4 linked regions of the Homo sapiens genome follow. The protein of the gene in region 4 interacts with the protein of the main gene of each other region in a pairwise test. Each region holds a gene or a part of one and is shown on either strand. Other genes may lie near its edges.

Evidence for each region.
Region 1: the proteins of ESR2 (region 4) and ZNHIT3 come close enough for resonance energy transfer, tested with the Homo sapiens proteins (one study listed by BioGRID).
Region 2: the proteins of ESR2 (region 4) and JMJD1C come close enough for resonance energy transfer, tested with the Homo sapiens proteins (one study listed by BioGRID).
Region 3: the proteins of ESR2 (region 4) and KPNA3 interact in binary tests that used the Homo sapiens proteins (3 or more experiments, as listed by UniProt).

The regions. Positions count from the first base shown.
Region 1 is NC_000017.11:36,485,253-36,489,559, forward strand, and holds the start of ZNHIT3 (zinc finger HIT domain-containing protein 3), read left to right. Parts: upstream 1-1,428; 5' UTR 1,429-1,447; coding exon 1,448-1,533; intron 1,534-1,682; coding exon 1,683-1,714; intron 1,715-4,307.
Region 2 is NC_000010.11:63,168,899-63,172,777, reverse strand, and holds part of JMJD1C (probable JmjC domain-containing histone demethylation protein 2C), read left to right. Parts: intron 1-3,879. UniProt on the Homo sapiens protein: Probable histone demethylase that specifically demethylates 'Lys-9' of histone H3, thereby playing a central role in histone code. Demethylation of Lys residue generates formaldehyde and succinate.
Region 3 is NC_000013.11:49,709,104-49,712,982, reverse strand, and holds part of KPNA3 (importin subunit alpha-4), read left to right. Parts: intron 1-1,960; coding exon 1,961-2,092; intron 2,093-3,282; coding exon 3,283-3,411; intron 3,412-3,879. UniProt on the Homo sapiens protein: Functions in nuclear protein import as an adapter protein for nuclear receptor KPNB1. Binds specifically and directly to substrates containing either a simple or bipartite NLS motif.
Region 4 is NC_000014.9:64,259,629-64,263,507, forward strand, and holds part of ESR2 (estrogen receptor beta), read right to left. Parts: intron 1,121-3,879; coding exon 821-1,120; intron 1-820.

The sequences.
Region 1 (4,307 bases), on a different chromosome or scaffold from region 4:
GGATAATTACTCACCTCCCACTCAAGAAGCAGGCGGCAGAACTGTTTTGGAGAGCATGGCTTGGGGCCTGGGACCTATGTTCATGCGGTCCAGACGGAGATCCATGAGAGTTAAGACTCTTTCTAGATATCAGGTAGCACTTCTGATTACAAAACTTTTGCACATGGTCTCCTCTCTGCTTTACAACAGCTCAGGAAAGTAGGCCCAAACATCCACTTTAATAGATGAGGGAGCTCAGAGGGGGTAACCAACCCCTCCAGGTCACACAGCCAGGGAGGGGGTTGAGCCAAGGTTCAAACCACTGCCTCGGTTGTTGCAGATACATCCCTGCAGACACCTTTATTGAAGAGGGACCCTGAAGGCTGAACGGCCAACACAGAAGAGGAGGCACTTGGGAGTAAGGGTGATTTATGGCCCTGGGAGGGCCCAGTGCAGGTAGGATGGGAGCTAAGGTAAGGCTGGGCCATGCCTAGCTGCAAGCAAATTTCCTTAAAAAACAAACAACAAAAAACATTACTTTTTCTAAACCTAAAGTTTGTGGTGGCATTCAAGTCCCATCATAGCCCATCTATCCAGACTCATCTGCCTGGGATCCCCGTCTTGGGACTAGTGGTCACTGGCCTGCTTCCTGGTCAATTAGCTTCCGGGACTAGGGGGAGGTGTGAGGAGCCTAGAGTGCAAAATTTAAGAAGCACTCAGTCTCAGGGGCGTGCAGGTGCAGGGTAGCGACGGCAGGACTCTAAGAGTGAGTCTCTTTCCTCCCCGTTTCCCCGTCCTACTTTCACTCTAAGCATTTAGTTCCCAGGGGACAGAGACGACTTCTTCATTAGAAGACCCCGGGGGGTCCCCAGCCCGGAAGGGCTCACAGTTGGAGCTCAAACATTTGCCACTGTTCAGGCTCATCTTTCTTTCCCCAGTGAAAAATGGTCTAGGTTGGGAAGGGCAGGTTCCTGTCTACTGCGTGATCCAACCGATTCTGGTTCGCCCAATGTCTGGACTTGTCCTTTGCCAAGAATAAGCAGATGAGATGGGCGGATGAACCCCAATGTCCCTGCAAGATTCAGGAAGTCCCAGCCAGAAAGTAAAGGACGTTTAGTTCCATGTATTGTTTTCTTTTTTACATGCGGGGCAACACACCTGGACAGTGTCGATGGCTTGCTCCAAGCCACACGGCCGCATAGGGACAGGGACTGGGCTACATAACAAGTTCTTCGACGCTGTGATCTAATCAAGGAAAACCTGGGACGCAGCTAATAGATGCGCATCGAGTGTATCGACGCTCTAAGTACGAGGGCTGGAACAGTGAGCAGGATCAGTCCATTGCTTTTGCCTACCTGCTGAGCGCTGATTGGTCCCCGTTTAGGAAACGGAAAAAGGGGCGTGCACGCGGGCGCGGCTGCGTGAGAGGCGCGCGGCGGCGCAGTGAACAGTCTCCTTCCACAAAACCATGGCGTCGCTCAAATGTAGCACCGTCGTCTGCGTGATCTGCTTGGAGAAGCCCAAATACCGCTGTCCAGCCTGCCGCGTGCCCTAGTGAGCGGGGAGGTCGCGGGGTCCAGGGGCGCGGGTGTCCGGCCATGGCGGGAGGGCGGGAGGCCGGGAGGCCGGGCGGGAGCGGGCGGGCTGCTGGAGGGGCCGGGGACCCTCGGGGCTGACGCGGCCTGTGGCCTCTGTTGTTACAGCTGCTCGGTAGTCTGCTTCCGGAAGCACAAAGGTGAGCCCCGTCCCCGCCAGCCCTCGTACCACTGCGCACGGGGCAGCCCCCACGTCCAGCCTCCGTCTTGGGGGCGTGGACCCTTGGGCTGCGCTTCCTTTCCCGCCTCGGGTCTCCGCGGGTTCTGCAGGAACCTTGCTTCCTCTGACTTGGTCCCTGGTGTCTCTGTGTGTCGGACAGTTCCCTCTGTTGTCCCTGCCTGTAATCGCTCTCAGGGTTTTGGTCAGTAGCCTTTCTTCTACCCCGCTTCTCCTTCTGCGTGTTACTCTTTTTTGCTTAGAAATAGTTTCCGATTGCTTTTCCCACCGAGGTCTACCCTAGCAGTTTCTTCCTCAGTATTCTGATGTAGCCCCTCACCATTTGGCTGAAACTGCGCTAACTTTAACAGTATTTTCACTCGTGTAAATAATGTCTTGTTAGAAACAAAGAGGTAAGTCCATGTACAATACAAGGAGACGTCCTTGATTTGTTAAGAGAAAAAAAGAACCAAGTAAGTTCTGTGTATGATGTGAACACACTTTTGTACAGTTAAAAAGAAGTGACCTGGCCGGGCGCGGTGGCTCACGCCTGTGGTCCCGGCACTTTGAGAGGCCAAGGCGGGTGGATCACCTGAGCCCAGGAGTTCGAGACCAGCCTGGCCAACATGGTGAAACTCCGTCTCTACTAAAAATACAAAAATTAGGCGGGCGAGGTGCGCGCCTGTAATCCCAGCTACTCAGGAGGCTGAGGCAGGAGAATCGCTTGAACCCGGGAGGCGGAGGTTGTAGTGAGCCGAAATCGCACCACTGCACTCCAGCCTGGGCTACAGAGCCAGACTCAGTCTGGAAAAAAAAAGAAAAAAAAAAGTTTGATGTAGGTGGGGCGCGGTGGGTCACGCCTGTAATCCCAGCACTTTGGGAGGCCGAGGCGGGCGGATCATTTGAGCTCAGGAGTTTGAGACCAGCCTGGGCAACATAGCGAAACCCCGTCTCTATAAACAAACAAAGCCAGGCGTGGTGGCCTGTGCCAGTGGTCCCAGCTACTCAGGAAGCAGAGGTGGGAAGATCGCTTGAGCCTGGGAGGAGGAGGTTGCAGTGAGCCAGGATCGTACCACTGCACTCCAGCCTGGGAGACAGCAAGACTGTCTCAAAAAAAAAAAAAAAAAAAGCTTGATGTAGATTCTTTCAGCTTATTTCCACTCTTGTACCAATATATAGAACTTTTTTTTTTAGCTTTTAGAATCTCAGCAATGAGACTGTACCCAACATCCTCATTTGAGTTTATATATTGGGCACTTTTTAAAACCTAGTGCATACAGGCTGGGCGCAGTGGCTCATGCCTGTAATCCCAGCACTTTGGGATGCCAAGGTGGGTGGATCACCTGAGGTCAGGAGTTCGAGACCAGCCTGGCCAACATTATGAAACCACATCTCTACTAAAAATACAAAAATAAGCTGGGTGTGGAGGTGCGCGCCTGTAATCCCAGCTACTTAGGAGGCTGAGGCAGGATAATTGCTTGAACCATGGAGACGCAGGTTGCAGTGAGCCAAGACTGCACCACTGCACTCCAGCCTGGGCAACAGAGTGAGACTCCATCTAAAAAAAAATTAAAAAAATTAAAAATAAAGACTAGTGCATACAAGTTCTAGCTCACTGACTTAAAGGACTGTATGTTATTTCATTATATAGTTGGTACGACCATTATTTATATAAAGCCTCCTATTGGTTGATTTTTCTTTTTAATATTTGTTTTTAATTGACACATAATTGCATACAATTTGAGTTACAGTGTGATACTTCGATACCTGTATACAATGTTTAAGGATCAAATTAGGGTAATTAGCATATTCGCCCCAAATAATCATTTCTTCATGTTGGGAACACTCGCAATCCTCTCTTGTAGCTATTTGAAAGTATAAATTGCTGCCAACATGGTCACACTAAGGTACTGTGTAACACTAGAACTTATTCCTCCCATCTAGCTGTAATTTTGTATCCATTAAGCAACTTCTCCCTAGCCCCCTACACTCTACTCTTCCTAGCCTCCAGTTACCACTATTCTGCTCTCTACTTCTGTGAAATCAACTTGCTTAGCATCCACATGTTAACAAGAACATCTTATGGTGCCTGGCTTGTTTCACTTAACATTATGTTCTTTGGGCTCATCCATGTTCCTGCAAGTGACAGGATTTCATGGTTTTTTATGGCTAATATCCAGTGTATATATGTACCGCATTTCTTTATCCATCTGTTGGTGGATCCTTAGGTTCATTCCTTATCTTGGCTGTTGTGACTAGCAGTAAACGCAGGAGTGCAGGTATCTCTTCGGCAGACTGATTTCATTTCCTTTGGATATATATACAGTAGTGGGATTGCTGGATCATATGGTAGTTCTATTCGTAGTTTTTTTTTAGGAACCTCTATGCTGTTTTCCATAATGACTATACTAATTTACATTCCCAATAACAGTGCAGTGTATAAGAGTTCCCTTTTCTCCACATCCTTGCCAACATGTTTTTTTCTTTTTGATAATAGCCATTCTTACTGTGGTGAGATGATACCTCATTGTGGTCTTGACTTGCATGTCCCTAATAATTAGTGATGTTGAACATTT
Region 2 (3,879 bases), on a different chromosome or scaffold from region 4:
TTTCTGTCAGGTATCTGTAAGACTTGCTTCTTTACACTTTTTTAGGCTTCATTCAAATTTCACCTTCTTGGTGAGGTCTAGTTTAAAGCTGTAAATTGTGTCCCCCAACTTTCTGTCGTCTTTCCTGCTTTATTTTCCTCCATTTCAGTTGTCACCTTAAAATATGCTTTATAATTTACTCACTTTGCTTGTCTTTTAACCCCCACTGGAACGTAAGCATGATGAAGTAAGAGATTTATCTTTTCCATTGCTCTCTTCCCATGCCTAGAATAATGCACTTAATGTTTGTATTATTAATAAGTCTCTATTCTGAAGGCCAGAAAATACGTTCTCAGTAACAACATGTTTTTGCACAAGGGTAGAGGAAAACAAATTTATGGCTTTCTATAATTTATATGTATTGGGCTTTTTGTAAAACATGTAAATGTTTACTTCTTCCTATATGTGCTTTCTCTGGCTACTTCCAAAAGTTTACTTAGGTTGGAATCCACTTTATGTCTATACACATTTTCTTTGAGATAGTTAGAAAATTCACATAGATTATAGAAACAAGATTACATCTATAAAAAATGTTATATCTAAATACACCAAGGCAGCATATATGACCTAGACTGACAAATTATATTCTGAGCTCTGCCACTAAATTGCTGAGTGATCCAAAACAAGATCTAACTTCTTTGCTACATATTTTGGCACAGAAATTGCCAGCTGTACAAAAGGGAATTGCTACCTTTCCTCTCCTGTGGGGTGTAATGACAACAACACAGCTCTTTATACTCTGTTGAAAGGATGTTGTCCGTAATTCACAATTGGTGGCAATGCAGTTTTAAGAGAAAATTCAAGGGAAGTAATAAGTGTTTACAATATTAACCTGGATTTGAGATGCATTATTACTTACAACCTGTTTAGGTCTTAGAAGTTCTGAAAACTGTTAATGACTTCAACACTTCCAGTAGGCTATAGGTGGCCCTCAGAATAATCAGACTCTAAATCAGTATTCTGACACTTCAGCATATGTTAGAATTTCATGGAGGGCTTGATAAAGCAGATTGCTGTACCCCACCACCAGAGTTTCTGATTTCAATGGGTCTGGGGAGGGACCTGAAACTATAGATTTCTGACAAGTTTCCAGGAAATGCTGATTTTACTGTTCAGGGACCACACTTTGGAAACCACACAAATAGGAATCTCATGCAAACCCAAGGCACCTATCAAAAAATTTTCAACCAAGTGATTCTGCATGACAAGGGCCAGCAGTGCTAGGGAAGAAACAACATTCTGTTCTTTGGCCCGTCAGCAATGACCATTGCCAGAGCCAAACTGAGAAGAGTGGGCTGTCTGTTCAAGGAAGCTGAGATATATAATCTTAGCAAGCTGAGGGAAAGCAGCATAGCCACAGCCCTCTTTATATGCTAAGAACTATTCTAGAATTGGAGACTTACAAATCTTACCTTGGTAACTGGGACTCAGTCTGTGAAACTCCTGTACATCCCTCCACAGAGCAATGACCCTGACCTCCAGGATTTTTGTCTCAGCTGTAGTATTCTGAGGTTTAGAGTGGCCTTTACTTAAAAACAGCAACAGTTGTTTTTTTTTTAAGTTAACACATAATCTTTAGTAAAATTTGTCGAAAAATACTAACTTTGATTGTGTTTGGTCATTTATCATGAGTTTAGAAAATTGTAAAGTTGTAATTCTCTGTATTTATATGACCAAAAGGACTTCTTGGCAAAATCTTTCCACACTAAGTTCTCACAAATAACTGAGTAAATAGCAATCACAGTGTCAATATAATAACCTTCCTACTATGAATACAAATTATATTTTCTTAACATTACCTATTTATAATTATAACTGATGCTTTTAGGCAAGTATGAATAAGACAATGTCAAGGAAGTGAAATATAAATGAGTCAAATGTGGCAAAGAAAAGGGATAATCAGAATGAGAAGCTGAGTTGTGTTCTGCTTTAAAACTGAACCTTGGCTCTTCAAAGTAACCCTCAAGCCTTTATCCAAAATATATCAGGTAGGGGTCATTAGGAAACCTAATAGCATCTTGTAAGCACTAATAAAGGTTACTGTTCTAAAAGTCATTTTAAAACAACCATAAGCTGGCAAAGACTGACAGAATGAACTTTTTCAGAACTCTGGAATCTAATTGAAAACTTACAACAGCAACCAAGAGACTGCTTAATGAAGAAAAGGGCAGCTGATTTTTGGCATTTAAGGAAATCTCTGTTAGGTAACTGGCTGACCAGTGAGATAGTGGAACAGAGACTTCAGTGACCACACCCAACAAGGAATACTGCCTTTGCAAAAACAGTTTGGAAAAGTCACTAAACAAATGGATGACTGGAGCCCTCAGGAATCAACAACAGCAAACCCTGAGGCAGGGAGAGAATATGATTACCCATTGTAATGTTCAGATGCCCAGTTTTCAACAGAAAGGTATAAGGCATACACAGAAAGAGGAAAGTATGGCCCATTCAAAGGGAGAAAATAAATTGGCAAAAACCTTCCCCGGGAAGCCCAGACATTGGACTTACTACTAGACAACTGTCTTAAATATGCTCAAAGAGCCAGCAGAAATCAGGAAAACGATGGATGAACAAAGTGAGAATATCAATAAATTATATAAAAAAAGAACCAAGTATACATTTTGGAGCTACAAATGATTTTAGGACATGCTAGAGCTAGATATACCAAAAGTTCTTTCATGCTAAAACTTTGGAAAGACTTACTCTCCTTAAGTTCAGATAAATGAAAGACATAAGGAGAGAGGGCATTTGGAGACTCTGTATGCTGGTATGAGAGTTAATAAGCAGGACTGTAAAGCATCTGTTAGACAAGACACCGCAGGAGTTGGGCTCCTGTTGACTTGCCATTTATTGGCTGATTTGTCTTGGGACAGGCGCTGAACATCTCATCCATAGTTTCCTGCTCTGTGAAATAGAGCATCTGTTCTACAGACACATTATGAAGAGCCAGTGAGACTGTACAGAAATGCTGAAAATGTGAGGCATCCACTATGTTCATCCTCCAGAGGAACCAACAGCCTAATGATTAAAGAAAGAGAATGTTTACTTTACTATGCTACCAAGTTATCAATAGAGGCACAGTGCTTGAGTTAAAGAACTCTGCAGACTTCAGCAGCTGTTCAGGTGGTCATTATGCCCAGAGGAGGAATTCTAGCCCCTCTGGAATTCCATCACCCTATCATCAATTAGATTTTTTTTCCCCACAGTCTCCATTTCCCACTTACTATCTCTTTCATCTCACTCCTCCCAATTAAATTTATTTTGCATACTTAGAGTAACTTTAAATGCTTAGTTTTTCAATTATTTCTCCTTTCCCAGGAATTTTTATGATGTTTTTTAATATCACTAGAAGACAATCTAGAAACACCACAAATCCCAGATTGGATCAGCTTGGGCCTTCCTCTGTTGTTTTACTGGCATTAATAGAAAGCAGCTCTAATAGTCAAGTGCAAAGTCAGTTTGTAAATGCTGAACAAATAACAGATAAGACTATTGACTGGCTTCTTGGGAAAACTGTTTGGTCAGGAGAGAGAAAACTGTTGAAAAACTGTTGTACTGATGTCACCGGTGATTGAAGGGGTATCTTTAATTGGCTAATTTGAAAGAAAGTCACAAAAGAAAGGCATGAATAACCAAAATCCTGGGATATTTCTGAAACTCAGTCGAGGTCAGTAGATCTGTCTGGGACTACATTTTCCATCCCAGTTCCTAACAAAGTTTCATTTTCTTTTCTTTATTCTCTGATGTAAGAGTTAACAGTGAAATGACCAAAATCCTGAAAGCCAATGGAGCAACAATAAACATACTCAGATAGATTGCCTCATAAATTCTTTCAAGTTA
Region 3 (3,879 bases), on a different chromosome or scaffold from region 4:
TTTTTTTTTTTAATAGGTTAGTTAGGCCCATTCACATAGGTTGATAGATTGATTTGAACTGTCATTTTGTGAAATAATGTCCCTGTGTTTTTTTTTTTCTCTGCTAAGCATACTTTTGTCTTTCTCAATTTTCTTTTGGTATTTGGGGAAGTTTGTATTTTTGTTCTAGTGGTTACCTTTATTCTTACACCTTTTTAATGCTCTCTTACTATCTGTTTTGACAGTTTTAAATGATATATTTTTTTACTTCTGTCTCTTACCTGTGCAATGATGCATGAGCTTATTCTATTTTCTCTTCTTGCCTCAACCTCCCATTTTTTAATCTGATTCTAGACTTATCTATTTTGCCAAATTTGGAACATATTTCTTCATATTTTTTTCAGCTCCGCCTTTCCTTGTAGGGTCTCTGAAGACACAAATATTAGATCTATTGTTATTGTGCTGGAAGTTCCTGAGAGTTAATTTCTGTTTAATCTTTTTTTTTTTCTGTTATTCAGTTTGGATGATTTCTATTGATGTATCTTTGGGTTCATTTATTTTTTTTTCCCCCTTCTATCATGTCGGGTTTTTTTGCTGAGAATTCCCACTTTAAATTTGTTTCAAATGTGTTCATAATTGTTCACCAGTGCATTTTTATGATAGTTACTTTAAAATCTTATCAAGTCCTTGTCAGATAATTCCAATATGTGTGTCATCTCAATATTGGCATCTGTTGACTGTCTTTTCTCTTTTGAGAATTTCCTGGATCTTGGTATGAAGGGTTATTTTCCATTGTAGCCTACACATATTGGTGTTATGCTTTGAGACCCCTGTTTCTAGGTAAATCTAGTTACTGTTACTGCCAGGGTGGGCAGTAGCCAGACTTTGTTCTCAGACCCAGCATCTGCAGACACCTCCAGCAGGGAGGCCTCCTCACTTCCAGAGTGGGAAATGGGCTGGTAGGTGGGCTCAGCTCTTAGGCCCAGCTTCTGTCCTCTCTTTTACACAGTCTTGAGGCAAGAGGTCCAGACAAAAGCTAGAATTTAATTTTTTCTCCTCTTACAGATAATGGAAATTTTTAGTGTTCTCTGACTCTTAGTAATGCTGAAGGGGTGTGGGTTATATGTGTAGTTCTATTTTATTTATTCATCTATATCCTTTTTTGAAGGGTATGTGAATTCAGGTGCCTGCTATTATTTTAGGGCAAAAAGATGTGATGTCTTCAATTTGGATGACCTAATAGGAAACATCTTGATTTTGCATAAGCTACAACCAGTGCTTATATTCCTCTGTGACGACACCAAGCAATGCCACATACAAGATCTTTGACCTTGAATGAATCACCAGATCGCTAAGCCTGTTTTCTTCTATGTAGTTGCAAAGTTAGGATAGGCCTAGGGCATGGTTTATACTCCAGGTTTATACTTCAGTTGGGGACACATTTCAGGAGATTTTCAAACAGTTTTTTCCCCAGATGAAGTTAAAGTGCCAAGTCATTTCTTTTATTGGTTTACTTTAGTAGCCTGAAAAATTGTATTGCTAAATATGTTGGAAAACCAGTAGAGTAAATAGATGACCTTTCTGTTCTCTTCTGAACTTGAAACAGTATGGTGTGTTGGCCTCATTCTTGTAAATAGTGTTTTTCTGTGGGATTATTAGGTAGCTAATTTGTGAGGGCAGGGAGAATTACTTTTCTGCCTGTTTTTAAATTCATCTGTCTGATACATAAATGCAGAAGTTGGAATAGAAGTTTTCCCAGACTTCTGTGTCTCATTTTCTGTGAAGAATGATCTGAGGTAGGCACTGAAAGAAAGATAAGGTACTTTCTACTTAATAGATTAATCAGCTAAGCAGATATTTTTGCCACTAAGCTAAAACTTGAAATTTGGTTACTTTTTCTGTCACTACTCCTGAGGTGTGTTGAACAAGTAAAGCATTCAAACAAATATGTAAAATGGTTTTTCTTTTGTGTTTCCTGTAGATTCTTGTAGACACTGTTTGGGCTCTGTCATACTTGACAGATGGAGGTAATGAACAGATACAGATGGTTATTGATTCAGGAGTTGTGCCCTTTCTTGTGCCCCTTCTGAGCCATCAGGAAGTCAAAGTTCAAGTAAGTATTTTTAAATTTTTCTTATTTGTATACAGTTGTGTTTGCTATAACCAGTTAACTTGTACAGCTAGGCTTTAATTCTATCTGTAAGTGCTTATCTTCCACATTTCTTCTGCTAGTCCCTGAGCCTGATTTTGTTGATTTCCAAATCTTTATCTCACCCAGTTTCTTTGCTGAGTTCCACACTTGTATAGCCAATTGTTCTTGACCCTTTATACATATCATCTAAGAACTCCTTCAAGCTTTCCGTGGTTAACTAGACAGAAATGAAACGATCATCTCCCACAAACCTGCTCTTCTTCCTTGTCTACCTTCAGTGAACAGCATGGCCTAAGCTAGAAATTTTGATTCCTCCTTGCAATTCCCATTCCATTACAAAATCATTTCAATTCTTCTTATATAGGTTCAAATCTGTCTCTCCTTATCTATCTAGAACAACAGATTTAGTTCAAGACTCTATCTTTCCCCCAAATAATTGCAATAACCTAATTGCATTTCTTCTTTCTCTCTCCCACTCTAATTAGGGGTAGGCACTTATTAGATCTGTTCATCCTGCTTTACCAAAGTGACTTTCTAGGTGGAAGTGTGTGCCCATTCCAGGCGTTTATTAAAATATTATATATATTTTTGAGATGGAGTCTTGTTCTGTCGCCCAAGCTGGAGTATGGTGGCGCGATCTCTGCTCACCGCAGCCTCTGCCTCTCAGGTTCAAGTGATTCTCCTGCCTCAGCCTTCAGAGTAGCTGGGATTACAGGCATGCACCATCACACCAGCTAATTTTTGTATTTCTAGTAGAGATGGAGTTTCACTATGTTGCCCAGGCTGGTCTTAAACTCCTGACCTCAGGTGATCCCCCCCGCCTCGGCCTCCCAAAATGCTGGGATTATAGGCATGAGCCACCATGCCCAGCCTTAAGAAACTGGACTTCTTCTAAAATTTTAATTTCCTTTTATTTTTTGAATCTTTTTCCAACCAATTTTCACACAATTTTTTTTTTTCATAAAGTTTCAGTTTTTCACAAGAGACTATTTAAAATTCAGAATAGCTCTCAGACTGCTTGGTGCTTTGTGAAAGGATGAAATAAGTGTTATTTATGCCTTGCATTTTTACTTTTTCTCAGGATTATGAAAAATATAGAATTAGTCTTATAAGCAAATAAATTTATAGAAAACATTTTATCCCCACCCTAGACAGCAGCCCTCAGAGCAGTTGGCAACATAGTGACTGGCACCGACGAGCAGACCCAGGTTGTTCTCAATTGTGATGTCCTGTCACACTTCCCAAATCTCTTATCACACCCAAAAGAGAAGATAAATAAGGTAAGGCATATAATGTCCTCATTATGCTATTTCTTTCTGTGTCTCATTTTTAACTGTCTCCTTGTTTCTATTGCTACTTGTATGTTTTTCTTAAAAGCCACTGCAGCGAAGATGAGAATTATTTTAAATCACCTCTGCAAATGTTTTTCTTCAACTTTTTTTTTTTTTTTTTTGAGACAGAGTCTGTCTGTTGCCTAGGCTGGAGTGCAGTGGCACGATCTCGGCTCACTGCAACCTCTGCCTCCTGGGTTCAAGCGATTCTCCTGCCTCAGCCTCCCGAGAAGCTGGGACTACAGGTGCCCGCCACCACGCCCAGCTAATTTTTGTATTTTTAGTAGAGATGGGGTTTCACCATATTGGCCAGGCTGGTCTCGAACTCCTGACCTTGTGATCCGCCTGCTTCAGCCCCACAAAGTGCTGAGATTACAGGCGTGAGCCACCGCGCCCAGCCTTTTTCAACTTTTAATC
Region 4 (3,879 bases):
TTTGGAGGATGGAAAACGCAGGTTCCAAGTGACAACTCATGAGTAACTAAGCTCATTTTTAACTTGATGGCATTCCAGGTTTATGGGCCCATTGATGATTCGTGTAACTTCAACCACTGATTTACTCTGTTTGTCCATACATATTCATTTATGTACATAATATTGATTCTCTACTGGAACAATAATTTACAAAATTCTATTTAGCATCTGACAAACCTTTCACTTTCAAACTAGTCATACTGTACTCTACCCCACCCCTCCTTTCAAGGTGAGGAATCCACAGCCAAGAAATGGGTCAATGTGGAGTCTATCATTTTAACCACGTTCCAGGTTCCAGGACTCTAGGATTCTTGCCCAAATGACCCCAAGCCCAATTCCAGAGCCTAGGTAGGTTCCCTGGGTCCATCCTCCCAGACCACCTCTAGGCATGAGAGGTGGCCAACAGGTGAGTGTCTGTAGCAGATGTGGACACACAGGATAGGGTTTGTGCAAGGTGGTATGGGATGCATCTAGCCATGGGAAAAGAAGGCAGTCAAGAATAGAAATGGCTGGGCCACGCACAACTCTTTCTGCACTACCATGTTGGGTACAGAACTCAGAAGAGTCTCAGAATTCTAAATCAGAACACGGCCTTGTTGAAGGTAGGTATGCCAAGACAGAAGGAAGGAACATATTGCACTTAAAAGTTACAAATCCAGCTGAGGACCTGTTAAATATCTAGGCACAGCTCATGGACCTCTACTTTGTACTCTTGCCCCTTAAATATTAGCGGCCGGCCTTTCTACAAGTACATGGAAAACTGATAGCCAGAAAGCCCTACCGGGAATCTTCTTGGCCCAGCTGATCATGTGTACCAACTCCTTGTCGGCCAACTTGGTCAGGGACATCATCATGGAGGCCTCGGTGAAGGGCGCACTGGGGCGGCTGATCAGCACATGGGGCGGCTCAGCCTCCAGGAGGGTGAGCACTAGCTGCTCGGGGCTCAGGGCGTCCAGCAGCAGCTCCCGCACTCGGGGCGCGTGGCCGCCACTTCTCTTGGCCTTGCCGGCACAGTGCAGCTGCTCGTCGGCACTTCTCTGTCTCCGCACAAGGCGGTACCCACATCTCTCTCTCCGGGAGCCTGAAGAGGAAAGCAGAGTCATTCGAATTGCCAGGGTAAAACCGCAGTCAAGCAAAAGCAGCTTGACTTTTATTTTCTGGAGCCTGTGGGGCACGTACCAAAGATTACTATGGTCGTGACCGTACTAGCAAAACCAACGACATAACTTTTCAGAAACTTTTTAGGTCTCCATTTCCAGGTCATCTATAGATACTAACACCGTTTCTCTATAAAGAGTGCTCATAAACCTGTTTCCAAACCATGAAATTAGGAATTTTCTTCAGGTAGAAAAATGGGGATATTTCCAAAGGTATCAAATAATATACTTTTATTATAACACATTCTTAAAATGTTTATATGCATGTGTGCATATGTATATATTTCCTTATACTTACACAAAACAAGTATATTTCAAATAACAAATTAAGTGAAAAAATCTGAAAAATATAGAAGAGAATAAATTTTGGCATAAACTCTTTCAGTCTTTTTAATGCTTTTATTTTTCTTTTTTCTTTTTTTTTTTTTTTTGAGACGGAGCCTTGCTCTGTGGCCTAGACTGGAGTGCAGTGGTGTGATCTCGGCTCACTGCAAGCTCCGCCTACCGGGTTCACGCCATTCTCCTGCCTCAGCCTCCCGAGTAGCTAGGACTATGGGTGCCTGCCACCATATTTTTCCACGTTTTATACACAAAATTATTTATTTATTTTTGAGACGGAGTCTCACTCTGTCACCCAGGCTGCAGTTCAGTGGCACATTCTTGGCTCACTGCAACTTCAGCCTCCCGGGTTCAAGCGATTCTCCTGCCTTAGCCTCCCAAGTAGCTGGGATTACAGGAGCCCGCCACCATGCCTGGCTAATTTTTATATTTTTAGTAGAGATGTGATTTCACCATGTTGGCCAGGCTGCTCTCAAATTCCTGATTCTCAAGTGATCTGCCCATCTTGGCCTCCCAAAGTGCTGGGATTACAGGCGTGAGCCACTGCACCCAGCCTTTATACACAAAATTAGATTGTAGTATCTACACTATTTTAATTGTATTTTTGAGACAGAGTCCTGCTCTGTTGCCCAAGCTGGAGTGTAATGATGCAATCATAGCTCACTGCAGCCTTCATCTCCTGGACTCAAGCAATCCTCCTGCCTCAGCCTCCTGAGTAGCTGGGACTACAGGAATATGCCACCATGCCCAGCTAACTTTTAAATTTTTTTGTAGAACTAGGGTCTTACTATGTTACCCAGTCCTCAATAGTTTGACTGTTTTCTCAGAACCCATTGGGCATTAAAAATCATTTTTAATGTTTGCTAATCTAACTAAACCATCTCGCTTTACTTTGTATGTTTTAATTACTAGCAAAGTTGATTTATATGCTTGTTCTTTGGATTTACTTTTTTTTTTTTTTTTTTAAGAGACAAGGTCTCTGTCACCCAGGCTGAAGTATGGTGGTACAGTCATGATCACAGCTCACTGCAGCCTCAACCTCCCAGGCTCAAGAGATCCTCCCACCTCAGCCTCCTGGATAGCTGGGACTACAAGTGTGCACCACCACATCTGACTAATTTTTGTATTTTTTGTAAAGACAGGGTCTCACCATGTTGCCCAGGCTGGTCTCGAATTCCTGGGCTCAAGTGATCCTCCTGCCTTGGCCTCTGAAAGTGCTGGGATTACAGGCATAAGCCACCACATCCGGCCCAAGAATTAAGTTTTAGTGATATAGAAACAAGGTGGAACCAAAATAACAAACAATAACATGCAAAATCAGAGAGGAATGATTTTGGTTAGAATTTCTAAGATTCTTTTTTGGGAAGATAGAAGCTTAAATTCTCAAATTAATCAAGAACACGTTACAAAACATAAACGTCATTAAAGGAATTGAAACATGGCCAAACATGGTGGCTCACACTTGTAATCCCAGAACTTTAGGAGGCCAAAGGTGGTTTCGGCGGGTGGGGCGGGAGGGGACGGATCACTTGAGGCCAGGAGTTCAAGACCAACCTGGGCAGCATGGTGAAACCCCATCTCTACTAATAATACAAAAATTAGCTGGGCATGGTGGCAAATGCCTGTAATCCTAGCTGTTTAGGAAGGTGAGGCAGGAGAATCACTTGAACCTGGGAGGCAGAGGCTGCAGTGAGCCAAGATCACACCACTGCACTCCAGCCTGGGTGACACAGCGAGACTCTGTCTCAAAAGATAAAAGGGAATTGAAACAGAATGTATGACTTTTAAACTAGCAAAAGAAGAAAAAGAAAACATAAAAATGTGATCAACTCCTAAAAGGGAAGAAGTAGAAAATACATAATAAAATTTTTTAAATCAAAAAATAAGATGATAGAAATGAACCCAAATATCAGTTATCACAATAAACAAAAAATACCAAATTGACCATTTAAGAGTGACTCTGAAATTATACATATTTTTAAATCTAGACATAGATTAGGTGTAAGAGATATACCTAACATATAGAAAAACAAAGTAGACAGATAGAAAAATATTTAACAGGCAAAATTAACCAAATAAATTGACATTACTCTATTGATACCAGACAAATAAACTTTAAGGCAAAAATTATTATTATAGATAAGGAGACTCATCGCTAGAATATTTTAAAAAGATAAATAATTCTAAACTCATATACTTCAAAACAACAAAGGCCAGGTGCGCTGGCTCATGCCTGTAATCCCAGCAATTTGGGAGGCCAAGGTGGGCGGATCACCTGAGGTCAGGAGTTTGAGACCAGCCTGGCCAAAATGGAAAAACCCCATCTCTACTACAAATACAAAAA